2 linked regions of the Homo sapiens genome follow. The protein of the gene in region 1 interacts with the protein of each later gene in a biochemical or structural test. Each region holds a gene or a part of one and is shown on either strand. Other genes may lie near its edges. The genes, in order: RABGEF1 and MON1A.

Region 1 (10,902 bases):
GAAATCTGTGAGGCCTCTCTCCCCAGCAACTGCAGTCGCTGTGCTCAGTTTTTCTTCCTTGTTTTCATTTATGCCTGACTTCCTTCTAGCTGTCACCCGTGTGTCTGCACACCTTAATGTTCAGCCAAAGATTGTTGTTTCAGACAAAGATTGAGATTGCGCTCAAACATCTCAATCTTTAGTTAGGCTTCCACTCTGATCAGCAGAGCATGTGCATACACAGAGGAGACACAGGAGAACCTTGTAAAAATAAGAGTGAGGTTAGAGGGGAGGGCTTGAAATTTGAGTTCATTCCTTGGCCTGGACGTAGATGCATTGCAGAAAGTGGAAGTTTTGTCCATCTTTACAGTTGCTTTTGCAGGAGAGGATTTATTTTCCTTCTCACTTAGTCATGCTAGAAGACAGAACTCTACATCTCAAGTTTTATGTCTTAAGATAGAGATCTTATCATGCTTTCCCCTTTTCAGGAGCTTTCAGTGGTGACTTTCAATCCAGACTCTGTAGCTTAGAGTTTTAAAAAGCCATCATGATTTGACTTCCCACCTAAGTTGTTTAGTTTACCTTCTGTCTGTGCTACATCATTCATATTTTACACTTGCCTTCTTGCTTCTGAGCTTTTTGTGAAAGGCATCCTTCCTGTCCAGAATGCCCTCCCTCTTTCTGTCATCCTTCCAAGACCCTTTCAACACAAGGCTCTTTAAGGTCTATCGCCAGCATCCCCAAGTGGTCTCTCTATACTCCGTAAGTGAGAATTCCTATGTCTGTTGCTCCCTAACAGTTTCCTAACACTTTCTCTTTTTCTGCGTTTTTCAGTCTGCCTGTACTTTTGGTTATGAGCTTCATGAGGGTAAGGACATGTTCTATGAGTTGCATCACCAGTGCCATCTAGCTCAATTCTCTGCACACAGTTGGCACTTAGTAAATGTTTGAGTTAAATTAATAAGATCCCCAAGATATAGGGCTTAATTTTATCTGCACATGTGAGTCTTCTTGAATGAATGGTGTGGAGTGCTGCTTTTTTTCTGTGCTTGTTTGGCAGTTTGTTTATATGGAGAAGAATGAAGACCATGTGGTTTCAGTTTGAACGGAAATTGTTGCATAGCGATTTACCATACAGCTGTGAGACTGAACAAATGAGTTTAAATATTATACAGTAGAAAAGAAAACTGACTTTGGAACTTAAGGTATTATTTCAATTTTTTTCTCTTCTCTTCTCTCTAGACAAGGCCTCGCTCTGTCACCCAGGCTGGAGTGCAGTGGTGTGATCATACCTCACTGCAGCCTCCAACTCCTGGGCTCAGGCAATCCTTCTGTCTCAGCCTCCCGATTAGCTGGGACTACAGGCATACACCATCACTCCCAGCTAGTTGTTGTGTTTTTTGTAGAGATGGGATCTTGCTGTGTTGCCCAGGCTGGTCCTGAACTCCTAGCCTCAAGTGATCCTCCCACCTTGGCCTCCCAAAGTGCTGGGATTACAGGCATGAGCCATTATGCCCAGCCTGGGTTTGTTTTTTTTTACAGTAGCCATCCTAATGGGTGTAAAGTGATATCTCATTGTGATTTTGATTTGCATTTCCCTGATGATTAGTGATGTTGAGCATTTTTCACATTTGTTGGCTGTTGGTATGTCTTTGGAGAATTGTTTATTGAAGTCCTTTTCCCATTTGTTAATCGGATTATTTGGGTTTGTTGTTGTTGTTGTTGTTGTTGTTATTGAGTTGTAGGAGTTCCTTCGTATTTTAGATATTAACCCCTTATTAGATATATGGTTTGCAGATAAGTTCTCCCATTCTGTGTGTTGTTCCTTTTTACCCTGTCAGTTGGTTCCTGTGTTTTGCAGATATTTAATTTTTAAAAATTTTTTATTTCTTTTGAGACAGAGTCTTGCTCTGTCACCCAGCCTGGAGTGCAGTGGCGTGATCTTGGCTCACTGCAGGCTCTGCCTCCCAGGTTCACGTGATTCTCCTGCCTCAGCCTCCTGAATAGCTGGGACTACAGGCGCCCGCCACCACGCCTGGCTAATTTTTTTGTATTTTTAGTAGAGACAGGGTTTCACCGTGTTAGCCAGGATACTCTCAATCTCCTGATTTTGTTATCCGCCCTCCTCAGCCTCCCAAAGGGCTGGGATTACAGGTGTGAGCCACCACACCGGCCTGTGCAGACATTTTAAAGTTTGATATAATGTATTTGTCTGATTTTGCTTTTGTTGCCTGTGCTTTTGGTGTCATATCCTAGAAGTCATTGCAAAATCCAGTGTCGGGAAGCTTTTCCCCTAAGTTTTTTTTCTAGGAGTTTTCTAGTTTGCAGCCTTTACATTTAGGTCTTTAATCTAATGTGAGTCCTTTCTTAATTTTTTATTTTTTATTTTTTATTTTGGGCAGGGAATAAGTCTTTCTTTAATATGGCTGTGTCAGGAATTTACTATATTTAACATTCTTTTTTCTTCCTTCCTCCTCTTTCTCCCTCCCTCCTTCATTCCCTCCATCCCTCTCTTAACAGCTTGAAGATAATGGAATCACTCACTTTTTGTTCATAATTGGTAAGATTTTATTTAGTAGAATGATAATTCATTTTCAACAGCACTTTCTTGTTTGTTCAGTGGTTAGCAGGAAGAAGATGAGCCTTAAGTCTGAACGCCGAGGAATTCATGTGGATCAATCGGATCTCCTGTGCAAGAAAGGATGTGGTTACTACGGCAACCCTGCCTGGCAGGGTTTCTGCTCCAAGTGCTGGAGGGAAGAGTACCACAAAGCCAGGCAGAAGCAGATTCAGGAGGACTGGGAGCTGGCGGAGCGGTAAAAGGACTTAACTAGGGGCGGTTGAACAGTGACGTGACTGGATACATAGTTCTGTCACCGTCTAAATACATTTTTTCACTTCTGCTTTGAGCTATCAGCAAGTCAGTTTAATATTAAGGAAAAGGATGTTTTCCTCTCTTCTTCTCAGTCAGCTTTTAATGAACAGCTTTCAGTAGTTTCTTCATTTTGTGTTTGTCTTCTGATTATTTTCTTTGGGTTGTGTTAGTTTTAGTTCTCAAATGTAGACAATAAGCTCCTTGGAGTGGAAGAATGGAGATAGGCATATTTCCTGGTGAAGATTAAATGAGCTAATAAATTTGACGTACCCACTGCAGGGCTTGGAAATGGCACTCATCAAGCATTATTTCCCTCATTCTTTTAATATATATTTAGCATGGCATCTAGCTCAGTGATAAAACACAGTAGTAGAAATCTGTTGACTTGTATACATAGTCATTGCATTGTAGAAATTTAACTTATATTTAAAAATTAGGTTAGCATTTGGTATTATCCGGAAATATAATGATGTTAAAAATTAAACGATGGGCCGGGCGCAGTGGCTCACGCCTGTAATCCTAGCACTTTGGGAGGGTGAGGCAGGAGGATCATCTGAGGTCAGGAGTTCGAGACCAGCCTGACCAACATGGTGAAACCCCCTCTCTACTAAAAATATTAAAAAAGTTAGCCGGGCATGGTGGTACGCATTTGTTATCCCAGCTACTTGGGAGACTGAGGCAGGAGAATTGCTTGAACCCAGGTATCGGAGGTTGCAGTGAGCTGAGATCATGCCACTGCACTCCAGCTTGGGAGACAGAGTGAGACTCTGTCTCAAAAAAAAATAAATAAATAAATAAATAAATGATGGGATGGCTAGTGAGCATAGGAACTAATAAAATGCCATGAATAATGTTAATTCTTTGCCAGAGCATTCTAGAATTCTAAAACTGCTTCAACAGAAGAAAGTCAAATGGAATTCTGCCAACTCCTCTAGCTAGTTGTTTGTTTTTTTTTTTTCATCCAGTCAGCCAATATTTGTTGAGTGACTCCTTTGCTGTCATTTGTAGTGAACTCAGAGAATTAGAAATTACACATTGCTTTCAGTGACTGTGTTCAATCAAAGAGAGAAAATTTTAGCCGAGAACATGAATGATCTCCTCAGGGTTTCCACTGCATGCCTGATGCTGTCAGTAGCAGATCCTGTTTCAAAAACAGAGTAGAGGCCACTAGGCACAAACTCCCTCAGCTTCCTCCCCTCACCACATAAAAATGTCCTAGTACCTTTATATTAACTTCTTGTCTGTCCCAGAGAAAGAGGGGTCCCGATTCCACCCTCAGACTTAGCACCTCCACCTGTGATTTTTGTTTCTATTTCTTACTGCTTTTAATTGTGACCCTGCTAAATCTCTCGGAAAGCTTGTAAAAGCAGTGATTGCTGGACCTTACCCACAGAGTCTCTGATTTTAGTGGCTTGGGAGTAAGACTAGAGAATTTGCATTTCTGACAAGTTGCCTGGTGATGCTGCGCTGCTGTCTGGGGAATCATACTTGGAAAATCATTGTCTTTTAGATAGTGCTTGTGCTTTTTGTTTGTTTGTTTGTTTTTGAGACAGGGTCTTGCTCTGTTACCCTGGCTGGAGTGCAATGGTGCAATTTCAACTTACTGCAACCTCTGCTTCCTGGGCTCAAGTGATCCTCCTGCTTCAGCCTCCCAAGTAGCTAGGACTACAGAAGTATGCCACCATGCCCAGCTAAGTTTTGTATTTTATGTAGAGACAGGGTTTCACCATGTTGCCCAGGCTGGTCTCAAATTCCTGAGCTCAAGTGATCCGGCCGCCTTGGCCTCCCAGTGTGCTGGGATTACAGGCGTGAGCCACTGCACCTGGCCTGTGTTTGGGAATTAATACAGGTGGTTCACATGCAGCTAATCCAAAGCCAAATTTATTGCTTTTATTTATTATTCTCCGCATTCTGAACATTTTCCTCCTAACCCTTCTCCTGAGTCAATTAATGGCATCACTACTTACCAAGTTAGCTAAAAAACCTTGGTTTCATTCTTGATTTCTCTTTTATCTCCCATGCTAGCTACAACTTGACCAAGTTCTATTTCTTCCAACTCAGAAAAGTCTTTTGAATTTTACCTTTTGTACTCCTATTTTCCAGGTGCTTATTTTCTTTTACTTAAACCTTTATAATATACTCTTACTTCTTGTTCCTGTCTCTAGTTTCTCTACCCTTCAAGTTGTTCACACAGCTACCTGCATGATCTTTCTAAAGTACAGATCTGACAGCGATAACTCCTTGGATTTACAGTCTTTCTTGCTTCCCTACCACATGATGAAATCCAGAATAGTGGGCTCAGCAATCAAGATTCCCTACCCTCTGGAGCCTTCCTGTATATCCAGCATCACAGTTCATCACACGCCCAGTGCTCTGGCTACATTCAGCTTGTTGTGAAGCAAACCACAGGCTTGCACATTTGTAGTTCCTTCTTTCTGGAATGTCCTTTCACTTAGAATCCTATTCAGCCTTATTAGTCAGGTGTGGTGGTGTGCGCCTGTAGTCCCAATAACTTGGGAGGCTGAGGGATGAGAATTGCTTGAACTCGGGAGGCAGAGGTTGTAGTGAGCTGATACCATGCTATTACACTCCAGCCTGGGCGATGGAGTGACACTCTGTCTCAAAAACAACCAAAAAAAGGATCCTATTTATCCTTTAAGACCTCACCCAAACATCACCGTTGTAAAGCCTCGTCAGACTCCCCCAGCAGATTGAGTTGTTCTTTCCTGTGTTCTCACAGCACTCAACTTTTACTCTCTGATGTAGCAGCTGTCCCATTCTGTAGCAGTTGTTTACTTACCTTTTTGTCTGTTCCAGCCTTGAGCTTGTTAGGGAAAAGGATTAGACTTGATTTCTTTCATGTAACCCTAGAGCAGTAGCTGAATGAGTATGAGAAGACCCCATTTGAAATCTGTAGTGCATGAAGAGCCGTCCATCCTGTAGCAATGTGAGACCTCAGACTGATTTGGCATATTTAGTCTCTAGGTCTAAAATCTTTAGATCCTCCTGAATTAATGGAGTAATAACCTTCACATACAGAGAAACCTTGGAGAATATCTAGGTCATTCTAATCCTCTCTTGAATTGCAGACTCCAGCGGGAGGAAGAAGAGGCCTTTGCCAGCAGTCAGAGCAGCCAAGGGGCCCAATCCCTCACATTCTCCAAGTTTGAAGAAAAGAAAACCAACGAGAAGACCCGCAAGGTTACCACAGTGAAGAAATTCTTCAGTGCATCTTCCAGGGTCGGATCAAAGAAGGGTAATGTTCTGATACTCTTTTTTTTCTTCTCTGCCTGAGTGAGACACAGAGGAGATCCCCAATGCTCATAAGCTCAGCTTTGTAATTTCTGTCAACTTTTTGAGAACATCAGCTCAGATTTGACACTGAAATTGGGCTTGAGGGTCAGACAGTATATGAAATCAATACTCTCTTTGGTTGAAAGACATTGTGTTTTAGAGAAATTTGTTTATAGGAGGAATCAAGAGAATTGAAATAGGTACTTTTGCTTATGAAATTCATCCCCATCCAAATGACTATCTCTTTGGATGTTTTGGTTTTTGTGCCTTTATTTGTGGATCCTGGTTTGTTCTGTGGTATAATACCCTCACTGTTCATAGCTTGTCAGAAATGGTGATTTCTAGGCTTGATAGTCATCTGAGAGAGAGATTTTCTGCCTGAGAGCTTATTTGAGAGACAGCTTGTGTCTTGAGGAAGTGTATTGAGAACATATAGGAAAAGGCCCAAGTTGGGCTCTTGGGGGGATGAAAGTGAGCCATAGTAGCTATTTTCCAGTGCATGGATTTGTATGTAGGTGATCATATTCACCCTGCTTTTTAAAATGCCATATAACCAGCAAGAGGATTGTCACTTAAGTCACAGTTGTTCTACCATTGAGCAGACTAGCTAGTTGAAGTGGCCCAACATGAAGCAAGAAAGACTCTTTGTTGTTAGGCCTCAGTCTGTCTTTGAAAATTTATGTTGGTACTCAGAGTTATGCAGTCAAAGCGAAATAATGAGGGAGACTGGGAACCAACACTGATGCTGTCAGAAGACCTGTTCTCTGGGAGCCCCCTCACTTGCTCCCCAGTTCCTACCCTGGGGTAATTGTAATGAGGTCTCCCCTGAAGGCCGGGGAATGAATAATAAGACAGTGTTACTTCTTAAGATACTTGCTGGTCTTCTAGGTTTTGTGACTTTTGCTGTTTCCTTTTGTTTTATTAAAAGGAAATATTGCTCATAACCAAAAACACACCTCTCTTTAAGACATGGATACCAGACCTGGTGCGGTAGCTCAAGCCTGTAATCTCAGCGCTTTGGGAGGCCAAGACAGATGGATTACCTGAGCTCAGGAGTTTGAGACCAGTCTGGGCAACATGGTGAAACCCCGCCTCTACAAAAAATAGAAAAATCATCCAGGCACAGTGGCATGTGCCTGTAGTTCCAGCTGAGGCCAGAAGGCTGAGGCAGGAGAATCATTTGAATCTAGGAGGAGGAGGTTGCAGTGAGCCGAAATCGTGCCATTGCACTCCAGCCTGGGTGACAGAGCAAGACCCTGTCTAAAAAAAGGAAAGAAAAGAAAAAAGATTGATTACATGATTAATTTGAAGTTGTTTCTTGGTTGGCTGCCAGTTGTAGCAATTTTATCTCTACGAAAAAGGGGGGAAAAATTAGTACCTGCCAGAGATTAAATAAGAATGTATTGGGCTCATGATTTATTTATTAGGAGGTGGAATAGCCAGGTAGTAAGGTGACTTTGGAGTCACTCCTGGTTTGAGCCCTAGCTTTGTATTTACCAGCTTTGTGACCTTGGACAGACTAACCTCTCCGAGTCCTGTCCACACTGAGGGACAATAATACCTACCAGAGGCACGTGATGAGGATTCAGTGAGTTAATGCATGTAAAGAGCTTAGCACAGTGCCTGACACACACAGTAGATCTCCAGTAAGTGTTAGCTGTTTTAAAATGCAAGTTATTCTTCTGATAGAATTATCTTGCAGGGAGCACAAGGGCATTTGCTATGAAGAATACTCATTCCTATTTAGCTTAAGGTCTGTTTCTTGATGATATGTAGTGAAATGATAAGTATTTATGATAACAGATGAAATAGTAAAACAAGTATAAAATTATCAGCTCCAATAGCCTCATTTTGCAGAGGACAGTGTGAAAGTCCATAAAGGTTAACTAATTTACCCAAGGTTGCACAATGAGTTTGTGCATGAGAACTCATGTCTCCTAATTCCTGGGTCAATATTTTTCCATTATATTCCTTTATCCAATGTGTATACTTCAGAAGCCCAGGTTATTTAATATATATCATAAATAATATATATATATGAAATTAAGTTTCTGTTACTTAAGTACATAATTGTCATTTATATTTGCTAACTCTCCTTGGTGGTTTTAAAAACCTGTGTCCCAAAAGCCTCTGTACAGTGTGCATTATACTATTGAAAGAAAATTTACAATTCAATGCAGAGTCTGTACTTTAAAAAGAAACATTTCTGGAGCTGGGTGCAGTGGCTTCTACCTACCTATAATCCCAGCTACTTGGAAGACTAAGGTAGGAGGATTACATGAGCCCAGGAGTTAGTGGCTGCAGTGAGCTCTGATTGTGCCACTGCACTCCAGCCTAGGCAGCAGAGTGAGACACCAACATTAAAAAAATTAATTAATTAATAAAGAATCCAGGTGAATTTTGTTTTAAAAATATGTATGCAGAATGATTTTTACCTTTGTTCTTGTCTCCCCTCATCCCCCATCTTTTTGAATGATAGATTTGTACTTTAGATTGTTTGTTCTTTAGTTGCTTTTTGTCTGTAGAAAGCTTTGGGGATAAAGACCTTAAAGTATTTTAAAAATTCATGTTAGAAAAGAAGATTCCATTGTATCTTTGTTTCACAGATCACTTAATATAACTTAGCCAGGTAAATTTTGCATTTCACACTGATTACTTTTGTTTGGCCATTGTGTTTGGATAAGATTAGCCTAAGTGCCGTTTTAATGTATTAGGTCTAGACTAGAAACAGACTTTTTGGATTCTGTATTCTTGAATCTTCCTTAGTCCATGATACCCTTGCTGTTGGTGTTTTACTTGCTTCTGTTAGTAGCATAAAGGAAAGTTTTTATGCCATACGTAGCAGCTTGGTAGCAGACAAAATACAAATAACCTTCTAAGGAATTTGAAGAATATCTTCACATTCTTTTAGAGTTGGATACGCCTTCAGAGAAAGTAAATGGAATGTCTTGACTGTAAAGACTCAGTTAAAGTGTTTTAGTCTCTACAGTCAGGGTGAGTGAGCTGTATAGAGGAAGTCATAGTGGTTGACCAAGCTGAGATACTTGCTTATACATTCCAAAGTGCCCTTTTCTTTCAGAACTCCTATAATGTTGTCATTCCAAGTAGAATCTTGTGTACCTCTTTCATGAACGGATCTGAAGACGGTGATTCTCTAAAGCATATCTTTTCATTTTTAGAGTTAAAATACCAATACCACCCAGACCTTAGAAAGTAAACCTATTATTCATTAAAGTGAATCAGGGCTTCTTGGAGAAGTGACTGATTCTGGGGCTAGAGTAGGGAAAAAAGGGCCCCTTCAATATTTTGGGGACATTTCAGAAGATCCAGAAGCCAGCTTGGAGGGGTTTCCACTGGCCAAGTCTGGGATAATTTGAATGTCAAAATAAATAAGGACAATAAGGCCAGGCACGGTGGCTCAGGCCTATAATCCCAGCACTTTGGGAGACCAAGGCAGGCAGATCACCTAAGGTTGGGAGTTTGAGACCAGCCTGACCAACGTGGCACAACCCCGTCTCTACTAAGAATACCAAATTAGTCAGGTGTGGAAGTGTGCGCCTGTAATCCCAGCTACTTGGGAGTCAGAGTCAGGAGAATCGCTTGAACCCGGGGAGTGGAGGTTGCAGTGAGCTGAGATCGTGCCACTCCAGCCTGGGCAACAAAGTGAGACTCCGTCTTAAAAAATAAATAAAATAAAATGAAGAAATCTATAAATAAGGACAATAAATGAAGTATAACTGATTGAACAAAAATCATAATCCGTGTGTTAATTTAGTAAAATAGAGAAATACGGCTGGCACAGGGGCTCACGCTTATGATCCCAGCACTTTGGGAGGCCGAGGCAGGTGGATCACCTAAGGTCGGGAGTTCGAGACCAGACTGGCCAACATGGTGAAACCCTGTCTCTACTAAAAATACAAAAATTAGCTGGGGGTGGTGGCACGTGCCTGCAATCCCAGCTGCTTGGGAGGCTGAGGCAGGAGAACTGTTTGAACCTGGGAGGTGGAGATTGCAGTGAGCCAAGATCGTGCCATTGCACTCCAGCCTGGGCAACAATGTGAGGCCCCCATCTTTAAAAAAAGAAAAAAAAATTAAAAAATTAGCTGGGCTAGTGCCTGTAGCCCCAACTACTTGGGAGGCTGAGATGGGAGGATCATTTGTGCCTGGGAGGTTGAGGCTGCAATGTGCTGTGATCATGCAACCGTACTCCAGCCTGGGTGACAGAGCGAGACCCTGATTAAAAAAAAAAAAAAAAACACCAAAAACACAAGGTGACTTTTAAGTTTAGGAGCAAGCACTTGCTGTTTGAGCCCTAGCCAAAATTATGAACTGTAACGTGGATGAGGTTGTTCTTTTCCATATTTCCTACTTCTTCACTTCTTTCATCTTACACACGGAATCCCTATTGGCTGTTCAAACATAAGTCGCCTCCTCCCTGCATACCGAACACCTGAGCTGTCTCTCACTTTCCCCTCTCTAATCCAAACTTCTGGCCTCTTAGTAGGGATTGATTTTTAGGAAGCTTGGAGAAAAACAACCAAGTGTTGATTTTAGTAACTTGTATGATCATAACTAGCTAGTAGAGTTAATCCTCATTTACATTTTAAAAGGGTTTTTTTTGTTTTAAAGCAAAAGTGTGTCTTTGGAAAAGTATGTGTGGGAGGGAGGCATGTTGTAAGCAAAGCAATAAAGGAAATGAGTAGGATTTTCCTGTGTTTTGACTGGTGTACAGACCTCCAAAGTCAGAGGAGTTG
Region 2 (11,326 bases), on another chromosome or scaffold:
TGGAGAAGTGTGATGAGACAAGTCAGTCTTGGTCAGAAAGGTGTGGAGGTTGCAGTACAGTGGCACGATCATAGCTCACTACAGCCTCGAACTCCTGGGTTCAAACAATGTGGTTGGATTATTGCAGCAGCCTCCCAACTAGCTGTTCTGCTTCTCCCCTTTCCCACCTTCAGTCTGTTTTCCACACAGCAATCAGAGGAATCCTGTTAACATGGAATTCAGGTTATGATATCTCTCTGTTCAGAGCCCTCTAACAACTTTCCATCTCCCTCCTTACAGAAACCAAATTCAGCAGCCTACAAGACTTGGAAGAAGCCACAATCATGCCACTGTATTTCAGCCTGAGCAACAGAGCAAGACCCCATCTCAAGGAAAAAAAAATTCCAACCACAGAAGGATGGTGCTTGCAGCAGTGTGGCCACAGTAGAAACAGGAGACAGACCTGTTGGACTGGAATGAAGGAAGATAGGGAAGAATTTGGGAGAAACAGTTTTGGTAGGAAGAGCAGGAGCTCAGTTTTGGGTAGGTAGAGTTTTCTAATAACCAGTAGACAAGTGAGATGTGGAGCTGGAAGTCGGTTCCATCAGTCTGGAGTTCAGGATAAAGATCAGGACTAGAGATGCAAATCTGGGAGGTATCAGCATGTTGCTAATATCTAAAGCCACAGGCCTGGATGAGATAACCAAGGGAGTAAAGGAGTAAGCAGAGATGGGAAAGCAAAGTTTAAGCCTTGAACACCTAGGCCACACCAGTGCTAACAGGTTTCAGGGAAGAGGAGGAACAGAACTATGGGTATTTTGGCCAGGTGCGGTGGCTCATGCCTGTAATCCCAGCACTTTGGGAAGGCCAAGGTGGGTGGATCACCTGAGTTCAGGAGTTTGAGACCAGTCTAGCCAACATGGTGAAACCTCATCTCTAATAAAAATGCAAAAATTAGCTGGGCATGGTGGCAGGCACCTGTAATCCCAGCTACTCAGGAGGCTGAGGCAGGAAAATCGCTTGAACCTGGGAGGTGGAGGATGCAGTGAGCCAAGATCACACCACTGCACTCTAGCCTGCGCAACAGAGTGAGACTGTCTAAAAAAAAAAAAAAAAAAAAAAAAAAAGAATTATGGGTATTTTGACTTTGCTTCTCAAACTAGGCCCTAGGCCTTTACTGATGGATCTTTCACTTATCAGATAATACTTTATCCTCTTAAGAGGTATATACCATATTAAGGAACTAATTATTATTGGTTTAGGCCCAATCTCCTTGGGTAATAATAATTGCTACACTTTATCAAACCACGTGCCTGGCATGGTGCTGGCACTTCATCTATGATTTCATTTAATCCTCGTAATAACTATATGACATTATCCCCTGTTTTTTGAGATGGAGTCTCGCTCTGTCACCAGGCTGGAGTGCAGTGGCACAATCTCGGCTCACTGTGACCTCCGCCTCCCCGGCTCAAGCGATTCTTCCATCTTAGCCTCCCGAGTAGCTGGGACAATAGGCACATGCCACCACATCCAGCTAATTTTTGTATTTTTAGTAGAGACAGGGTTTCACTATGTTGGCCAGAATGGTCTTGATCTCTTGACCTCATGACCACCTGCCTCAGCCTCCCAAAGTGCTGGATTACAGGCATGAGCCACTAGCCTGGCCAATATTATCCCCTTTTATAGTTTTTTTTTTTTTTTCCAAGACAGTCTTGCTCTTTCACCCAGGCTGAAGTGCAGTGGCGCGATCTCGGCTCACCGCAACCTCTGCCTCCGCCTCCGCCTCCACCTCCAGGGTTCAAACGATTCTCCTGCCTCAGCCTCCTGAGTAGCTGAGATTACAGGCTCACACCACCATGCTCAGCTAATTTTTTGGTAGTTTTAGTAGAGACGGGGTTTCAGCATCTTGGCCAGGCTGGTCCCGAACTCCTGACCTCAGGTGATCCACCCACCTCGGCTTCCCAAAGTTCTGGGATTATAGGCATGAACCACCACTCCCTGCCTCCCCTTTTATAGTTAAGGAAACCAGAGCCCAGAAAGGTTAAGTAACTTGCCACAGCTGAAAAGTGAAGGCGGAAGAAATGTAACAATTAGACGTCTTGTTCTTCCCCATATTTCTTCTCTTTTCTAGCTTTAGTGAAGATGTCAGAACCTGAGGTGCTGCAAGGTTATAACTCAAGTGTATCCTTGCTGGGTGTGTAGTCTTAATTACTCAGGAGGCTGATGTGGGAGGATGGCTTGGGCCCAGTAGTTCCTGGCCAGTCTGGGCAACATATTGAGACTCTGTCTCAATATAAAAATAAAAACAGTCCAGGCACAGTGGCTCACACCTGTAATCCCAACACTTTGGGAGGCCAAGGTAGGAGGATTGCTTGAGCCCAGGAGTTCCAGACCAGCCTGGGCAACATAAGGAGACGCCATTTCTACAAAAAATTTAAAACTTGCCCAATGTGGTGGCACACACTTGTGGTCCCAGCCACTCGGGAGGCTGAAGTGGGAGGATCACTTAGGCCCAGGAGGTCAAGGCTGCAGTGAGCCACTGCACTACAGCCTGGGTGACAGATTAAGACCCTGACTCAAAAAACAAACAAGGCCGGGCATGGGGGCTCATGCCTGTAATCCCAGCACTTTGGGAGGCCGAGGTGGGTGGATTGCCTGAGGTCGGGAGTTCGAGACCAGCCTGACCAACATGGAGAAACCCCATCTCTACTAAAAATACAAAATTAGCCGGGTGTGGTGGCACATGCCTGTAATCTCAGCTACTTGGGAGGCTAAGGCAGGAAAATCGCCTGAACCCGGGAGAAGGAGGTTGTGGTGAGCCGAGATCGCACCATTGCACTTCAGCCTGGGCAACAAGAGTGAAACACCGTTTCAAAAAAAAAAAAAAAAGTGGATTAAAACAAAGTTTTAAGTAATAACCTAAGATGTTTTAGTAAGTACCCACCATGATTTGCTCTGCGAGAATGTCTTAGGCACAAGTCTTAGCGAGAAATATATGAGATATATGGCCACTTGCTTAGCTAAGTAGATGTAATACTTCCAGATGACAGTAGTACTATCTGGTGGAGCTGATGTGCTTAACAGGAATAGTAAGACTCTGGAAGAAATCCTGAGCTAAACATGGAGACTGTCAAGAACTAGTTAGGTAGAAAACTTTAAATTTGGTCAGGCGCAGTGGCTCACACCTGTAATCCCAGCACTTTGGGAGGCCGAGGTGGGTGGATGCGGATCACAAGGTCAGGAGTTCGAGATCAGCCTGGCCAACATTGGTGAAACCCCGTCTCTACTAAAAATACAAAAATTAGGCTGGACGCAGTGGCTCACGCCTGTAATCCCAGCACTTTGGGAGGCCGAGGCGGGCGGATCACAAGGTCAAGAGATTGAGACCATCCTGGCCAACATGGTGGAACCCCATCTCTACTAAAAATAAAAAAATTAGCTGGGCATGGTGGTGCATGCCTGTAGTCCCAGCTACTTGGGAGGCTGAGGCAGGAGAATCGCTTGAACGTGGGAGGCTAAGGTTGCAGTGAGCCGAGATAGTGCCACTGCACTCCAGACTGGGTGACTGAGCAAGACTTCATCTCAAAAAAACAAAACAAAACAAAAAACTGGCCGGGCGCAGTGGCTCATACCTGTAATCCCAGCACTTTGGGAGGCCGAGATGGATGAATCACGAGGTCAGGAGTTCGAGACCAGTCTGACCAACATGGTGAAACATGTCTCTACTAAAAATACAAAAATCACAAAAATTTGCCGGGCGTGGTGGTACGCACCTGTAATCCCAGCTACTCTGGAGGCTGAGGCAGGAAAATTGCTTGAACGCGGGAGGCGGAGGTTGCAGTGAGCTGAGATCACGTCACTGCACTCCAGCCTGGGCAACAGAGCGAGACTCCGTCTCAAAAAAAAAAAAAAAAAGAAAACTTTAAATTTGTCTTCTGGGCGGGGTGTGGTGGCTCATGCCTGTAATCCCAGCACTTTGGGAGGCTGAGGCGGGTGGATCACGAGGTCAGGAGTTCAAGACCAGCCTGGCCAAGATGGTGAAACCCTGTCTCTACTAAAAATACAAAAATTAGCTGGGCGTGGTGGTAGGTACCTGTAATCCCAGCCACTCGGGAGGCTGAGGCAGAGAACTACTTGAACCCAGAAGGCAGAGGTTGCAGTGAGCTGAGATGGCACCACTGCACTCTAGCCTGGATGATAGAGACTTCATTTGAAAAAAAATAAGTAAATTAAATTAATTTGTCTTCTATGGAGATGAATTCTATAGGGTGTAAATTCAAGTTAATGAAATATAGGCAGGATATTAGCCAGGCATGGTGGCTTATGCCTGTAATCACAGTACTTTGGGAGGCCAAGATGGGAAAATTGCTTGAGGCCAAGAGTTCGATACCAGCCTTGTCAACATAGCATAGTGAAACCACCATCTCTAAAAAAAAAATAAAAAAAGAAAAAGAAAAAGGAAAGGAACATAGCCAGGACATTTCTGTACCAAGCAGAGAATGTTATATCTTGACTTAAACTCTCCTTCCTTCCTTCCTTCCTCCCTCCCTCCCTTCCTTCCTTCTTTCTTAACTTTCTCCTTCTTGTTGTCCATGATCATGGCTCACTTCAGACTTGATCTCCTGGGCTCAAGTAATTCTTCCTGCTTCAGCCTGTGGAGTAATTGGGATTACAAGGCTGTGCCACCAAGCCCAGCTCATGGCTCAAACTCTTATAGTGTAATAATTAGAGAAAACAACTGTATAAATGATTCTTGCCCTAAGGGAGGGAACTTGGACTTCTGAGCTAATGAGGAGATAAAATACTGAGTGATCTGTGGAGACCTGGAGAGACTCTCAGTTAAGGAATAGGGCATTTTCTTATGTCCTTACCTAAAAGTGGGGGACATGGGGGTGAGAAAGCTTCCCTTAGACTATGTGCAAGAACTTGATAGCCTTATGCAAAGCCATCTTCAGTGAAAGGCCACAGCTTTGTCACCATGTCAGTCACAGGCCAGTGTTGTGGAAGCAGGCTACAAGTGGCAGCCATCTGAGACTGGAAGAAAAGCCCAGGGGCGGAGCTCTACCCTAACTCCAGTGTAGGGCTTAGAGAGGAAAAGGACACTGCCCCCAGGTGCTTGTGGAGCAGCAGGGAAAGTCAGAGGAGTGATCTGACTTTTTTTTTCATCCTATTAACTTTTGGGAGAATTAACCATAAGGCTGTAAAGTGAATTAATTGCTTCAGAAAAGAACATGAGCAGTGGTGCCAAACACTAATTTTACTTTTTAAAACCATCTCTAAAAATAAGGGTCTTTTGGGAGAGCCTGTTGTTGACTGTTTTCCTGTTGTTTTTATTGCTTTGCGTCTAGGAAATTACAAACAATGATTCTTTGCAATGGTAAATCACCTGGGGAGCTTTTAAAACAATAGTGATGCCTGGCTCCCCAACACTCCACCCTACTCTAAATTCAATTAAATCAAAATCTCTAGGGCTGGTGTCCAGGCATTAGTTTTTTTGTTGTTGTTTTTGAGACAGGGTCTCGCTCTGGTGCTCAGGCTGGAGTGCAGGGCATGATCATGGCTCACAGCAACCTCGACCTCCTGGAATCCCACTTCAGCCTCCCGAGTATCTGGGACTACAGGCACACGCCATCAAGCCTGGCTAGTTTTTGTATTTTTAGTAGAGATGGGGTTTCACCATGTTGGCCAGGCTGGTCTGGAACTCCTGACCTCAAGTGATCCGCCCACCTCGGTCTCCCAAGTGTTGGGATTACAGGCGTGAGCCGCCTCGCCCGTCCTAGTTCTTTTTTTTTTTTTTTAAAGCTTCCCGGCTTATTCTATGTGCCGTCAGAGTTGAGAACTACCGTTCTAGAGCATTATACTGATACATTAAAACGTGGCTACAAATATGTTTTTAGAAACAATTAGTGCGACTTTTGCGCATGCCCACATCCTTTACAGCCTGTGTGGCTGGGCCCACTAATGACATTTATCCAGTCCCCCAAACTTGCACTGTCCTTCCACAATCAGTGGGAGAAACAATCCTAACGTCCCTTTCTCTCACTTGAAATGAACTGCTAGCTGGCTCGGACGGAGAGGCCCAGAGTCCAGGGCTGTTCTGTGTGGGACTCTAGACTCGGAGGAGGCGCCCAGGCCCCTAGAAGGCGGCGCCGGATGAGGCAATCGCGGACCCGGGTCAGGACCTGCCCACGGCTCTGCTGGGACTAGGAGCCCAGAACCAGTCCCTCGGCGCCGCAGGCGGCCAAACGCTAAGGACTACATTTCCCACAATGCACCCCGGGGGCGGGCCGAGTCGGGCTGAGCGGCTGGAGCTGGGCCTTGGCCGCGAGAGGCCGGCGAAAGCTATCTTCCTGCACCGGCGGCCGGGTGAGGGCGGTGGGAGGGAGCGGTGCCTGCGCTGTGGCCATGTCTGTGTACGCAGGGGGCCGGGGCCCCGCGAAGCTGTGCCCTCAGGCCGGCCCCGGCCGGACACCCTTACCCCTCCATGGGTCCGGCAGAGGGCAGTGACCGGCACCTTCTGTGCGTCCTGGACTCCTCTGAGAAACAGGTGAGTTGACTGCCAGCCCACGTGGCCTGGAGGCACCTAGAGACTGGAGAGCTGTCATCTTTGGAGGGAGGGGCTTGAAGACGGGGGCCTCCAGCCATCAACGCTATCGTTTGCAATGGGAAGACTGTGTCTCCCTGCGGTCCCTCAGCCGGCTAGTCCCCAGCTGGGGAATACAAAAGGCGAGATCTGGAACCCATCCTTTGGCTGGGAGGGCGAGATCCGGTAGGGGGCAGTGGCCAGGTAGGACTCTCCCCACTCCCCCACCCCCGCCCCGCCAACAAACGTACACATATTCGGCCGGTAGAGTCTTCTCAAAAAGCAACAGAGGTAACTGGGATGAGCGGGGCAGCACCTGGAAGGGGCTTGGGTCTTTGCTTTGTTGTTTTTAGACGGAGTTTCACTCTTGTTGCCCAGTCTGGAGTGCAGTGGTGTGATCTCAGCTCTCTGCAACCTCCGCCTCCCAGGTTCAAGCGATTCTCCTGCCTCAGCCTCCCGAGTAGCTGGGATTACAGGCATGCGCCACCACGCCCAGCTAATTTTTTGTATTTTTGTATTTTTTTAGTAGAGACGGGGTTTCACCATGTTGGCCAGGCTCGTCTTGAACTCCTGACCTCAGGTGATCTGCCTGCCTCAGCTTCCCAAAGTGCTGGGATTACAGGCATGAGCCACTGCGCCTGGCCGGACTTTGCACCAGTTTGCCTGGTGCAACTGGGTTGTCCCTTGTACTGGGTGAGCCACCCTTTCTGGGCACAAGTTTGCAGAGGGAGAGTGAGCACCCTTTGTCAGGGAGGGAAGTAACCGCCAGAAGTGACAAGGACCAGACTGTGATCTCAGCATGGAGTAGGCATCCTGCTGAAGCAGCCATAGCACAGCCTCACCTGGGCCTTGTCTGCCACACATCCTGTATCCTGGCACCTCCTTTCCAGACAGGCCGCTCCAAAGGGTTAAGGTGAAATGAAGTGCTATCCAAGCAAGAAGAGGGAGCAGGAGTGGTAGGGAGTCAGTAGGGAGGGGCTTCTGAAGGCCTTCTCTGCTCCAAGGCTGCCTGAGTGAGAGAGGCACACTACAAGGGCTGATTGAGCCAACTTGTTTGGTGACATTGCTCACAGGCATAGCAGGGCACTTCTAGGAAAAGCAAGGCCTGGGGCTTCTAGAGGGGTTGTCTGAGAAGGGTTCCCTGAGAAGGGGCATCTGGGGCTGGTTCTAAGAGACCTCCTTTGCCTAACTTCTTCAATTCTAGCCTCCCAGGAGCTTCAGTTGCACAGTTGTGGCTCCAATGGGGGTTGGGGTGGATTTTGCTGTGATTCACTCAGCCTCCCTGTCTGAGTTTCCAGAGTAAGTATTCAGAGAGCTGTTTGCTTCATCAGGCCTCTGGCTGGACCCCAGACTGACCTAGGAGATGCTGAGATACTGTATGATCTCAGGTGGCAGGAGAACTATTGTGAAGGAAGCATCCACTAGCTCTGGCCAGCTGATCTGGCCCCCGCCAACCCTTCCCCATGCAGGTACCGTGCTGGGTACCACTCAGCCACACTGGGCTTAGTCAGCTAAAGCCCACAAGGGATCAGTGGAGAGTGGGCCCTGAGGACAGAATAAGTAAGCTATTGTAGACCTTGTTTGGGTCTTTGAACCAAAAGTGCAACGTCACAGAGCAGTGGCATGTGGCAGACCAAGGAGTTTTTTGTTTTTTTTTGTTGTTTTTTTTTTTGAGACAGAGTTTCAATCTTTTGCCCAGGCTGGAGTGCAATGGCGCGATATCAGCTCACTGCAACCTCTGCCCCCTGGGTTCAAGTGATTCTCCTGCCTCAGCCTCCTGAGTAGCTGGGATTATAGGCGCCTGCCACCATACCTGGCTAATTAAGGAGTTTAATTTAGGAGATACTTCCAAGAGCAGCAGAGAGCCCGTTGTCTATTCCTGCAACTCCAGAGCCAGTGAACAACCAGTTAGCCTGGAGGAACTCCCAGCTGTCTATAAGACAGCTCTTTGACCTGACTCCCAACTGTCTATATGATAGCCCTAGCCTGAAGGTGAGTCGCTTCAGGCTAGGGCCCACCTGGCTTTGCAAGGTCAGAAGCGTATTTGCCCATATGCCACTGTAGGCTGAGCAAAATCTCAGAGGCCCGATTTACATGGCACAGACCACTGGATTCATGTGGTATTATAAGTGCAGTCACACATGGACTGAATGCTAAGTAAGAATAATCAGGATGTGCTAATGGGAGCAACTGAGTATGTAATCAAATTACATGGATTATTTCATTTAATCTTCCCACAACCCAAGGAATCAATACTACTATCCCATTTTATAAATGAGAAAACTGAGACCAGGCCAGGTTAATCCAGGTCCCTCTAACTTCGGAGCCATTGTTCCTGAACACCTGAGTAGTACCAGTGATAAGTCTTCCCCACAGGCAGGGGTTTCCAGAGGCCACATCACAGGTGTGACAGAGCTGGGCATTCTTCAGAGATCTTTCAGTTTTCCCTTCCATTTTTCTTTTTTAATTGCCTGAGGGATAAAAACACAAGTTCAGCTGGGCGCGGTGGCTCATGCCTGTAATCCCAGCACTTTGGGAGGCCGAGGCCGGTGGATCACCTGAGGTCAGGAGTTTGGGACCAGCCTGGCCAACATGATGAAACCCCATCTCTACTAAAAATACAAAAATTGGATGGGCATGGTGGTACACACCTGTAATCCCAGCTACTCGGGAGGCTGAGGCACAAGAATTGCTTGAACCCAGGAGGCAGAGGTTGCAGTGAGCCAAGATCATGCCACTGCACTCCAGCCTGGGCGACAGAATGAGACTCCATCTCAAAAAAAAAAAAAATCTCCCTCCCAAAGATGTCTGTTGGCTGGATGTGGTGGCTCACACCTGTAATCCCAGCACTTTGGGAGCCCTAGGAGGGAGGATCTTCAGTTCAGGAGTTTGAGAACAGCCTGGACAACATACTGAGACCCCATCTCTACAAAAATAAAAATTAAAAAATTAGCCAGGCGTGGTGGCACGTGCCTGTAGTCTCAGGTACTCAGGAGGCTGAGGTGGAAGGATCATTTGAGCCTGAGAGGCCAGGGCTACAGTTAGCTGTGATTGCATCACTGCACTCCAGCCTGGGTGACAGAGTGAGATTCTGTCTCAAAAAAAATAGAACTCCTCCCGCATGTGGCTTAAAGCCATACTGAAATTTGTGGTAGGTCACAGGGTAACCTTCAATCCAGAGAAATAAAGCAGGGCAAGAGGGGTAAGGAGCAGGGATATTGATAAGGTAATGCTTGAGCAGCAACCTGAAGGGAGTGAGGGACTGAGTCACATAGATAACTAGCCCAGGCAATGGAGTAGGTGAAGTGGGGTGCAGGGGGAAAGTTCAGCAACGGCAAAGTTCTAAAGTTAAAGAGTGCCCAGGAGGCTTAAGGAAAGCCAGGAGGCCACTATGGCTGGGCTGAATCACAGTTAGTGGGGAAAAAGGATAAGAGATGAGGTCAAAGAAGTAATGGGGAAGGAGTTATGTTGAGTGGGGCCTTGTGCACCACTGTGAGGAAATTGGCTTTCTCACTGAGTAAGGTGGGACCATTACAGAGTTGTGAGCAGAGGAACTGCATGACCTGAGTTCTGTATCAAGAGAATCACTTTGCTGTAAGAAGCACAGATTATGCAGGGACAAGGGCAAAAGAGGGGAGACTAGATAGGAGATTACTGCAACAATCTCCTAGAGAGACACTGGTGGCTTTGACCACAGTGGTAGCTGTGGAGGTGACAAGTGGTCAGATTCTGGATATAGGCATTTCCCACTTAACATCAGTAATCTGTTTCATGAAAATTGGACATTCTGTGTGAAATCTTCAACTTAATATATTTTCCATTGATTGATTGATTGAGACAGGGTCTTGCTGTGTTGCCCAGGCTGGAGTACAGTGGCACAATCACGGCTCACTGCAGCCTTGACCTCCTGTACTCAAGCGATCCTCCCACCTCAGCCTCTTAAGTAGGTGGGACTACAGGCATGAGCTGCCCCACCCAGCTGATTTTTTATTTTGTAGAGACAGGGTCTCACTATGTCAGCCAGGCTGGCACTCAGTAATTTTCTATCAGTTCTATTTGGAATATAATTTGAAGCTTTAAATGCACATTACTTTGTTAAAAATATAGATAAGATTTTAATGATGTAAATATACATATTTTCTGTATAAACATACACTGGGCCAGGTGTGGTGGCTCACACCTGTAATCCCAGTACTTTGAGAGGCTGAGGCAGGCAGATCACTTGAGTCAAGGAGTTTGAGAGCAGCTTGGGCAACATAAGGAGACCCTGTCTCTACAAAAAATTAAAAAATTAGCCAGGCATGGTGGCACATGCCTGTGGTCCCAGCTACTTGGGAGGCTGAGGTGGGAGGATCACTTGGGCCTGGGAGGTTGAGGCTACAGTGAACCATGATCACACTATTGCACTTCGGCCTGGGTGGCAGAGTGAGACCCTGTCTCAATAGATAAATAAATAAACATAAGCTGAATCAACATAAGTTTGGTATATTAGTTAACTATTGCTGTGTAACAAATTATGCCAAAACTTAGCAGCTTAAAACAACAATATTTATTATCTCATACAGTTCTTGTGGGTCAAGAATTTGGGAGTGGCTTAGCTGGATGGCTCAAGCTCAGGGTCTCTTATTACGTTGAAGTCATCTGAAGGTTTGACTGGGCCTAGATGATCTGCTTCCGAGATGACTCACTCATGACTAGCAAGTTGGTACTGGCTGTTCACAGGAGGTCTCAGTCCCTTGCCATGAAGTTCTCTCCATAGAGCTG

The links.
Region 2: the proteins of RABGEF1 (region 1) and MON1A form a complex in vitro, tested with the Homo sapiens proteins (one study listed by BioGRID).

What each region holds. Positions count from the first base shown.
Region 1 is NC_000007.14:66,769,284-66,780,185, forward strand, and holds part of RABGEF1 (rab5 GDP/GTP exchange factor), read left to right. Parts: intron 1-1,039; exon of another isoform or gene 1,040-1,184; intron 1,185-2,599; coding exon of another isoform or gene 2,600-2,616; coding exon 2,617-2,795; intron 2,796-4,407; coding exon of another isoform or gene 4,408-4,544; intron 4,545-5,943; coding exon 5,944-6,110; intron 6,111-10,902. UniProt on the Homo sapiens protein: Rab effector protein acting as linker between gamma-adaptin, RAB4A or RAB5A. Involved in endocytic membrane fusion and membrane trafficking of recycling endosomes. Stimulates nucleotide exchange on RAB5A. Can act as a ubiquitin ligase.
Region 2 is NC_000003.12:49,924,809-49,936,134, reverse strand, and holds the start of MON1A (vacuolar fusion protein MON1 homolog A), read left to right. Parts: upstream 1-6,323; 5' UTR 6,324-6,526; intron 6,527-6,599; exon of another isoform or gene 6,600-6,766; intron 6,767-6,800; exon of another isoform or gene 6,801-6,853; intron 6,854-11,326. UniProt on the Homo sapiens protein: Plays an important role in membrane trafficking through the secretory apparatus. Not involved in endocytic trafficking to lysosomes.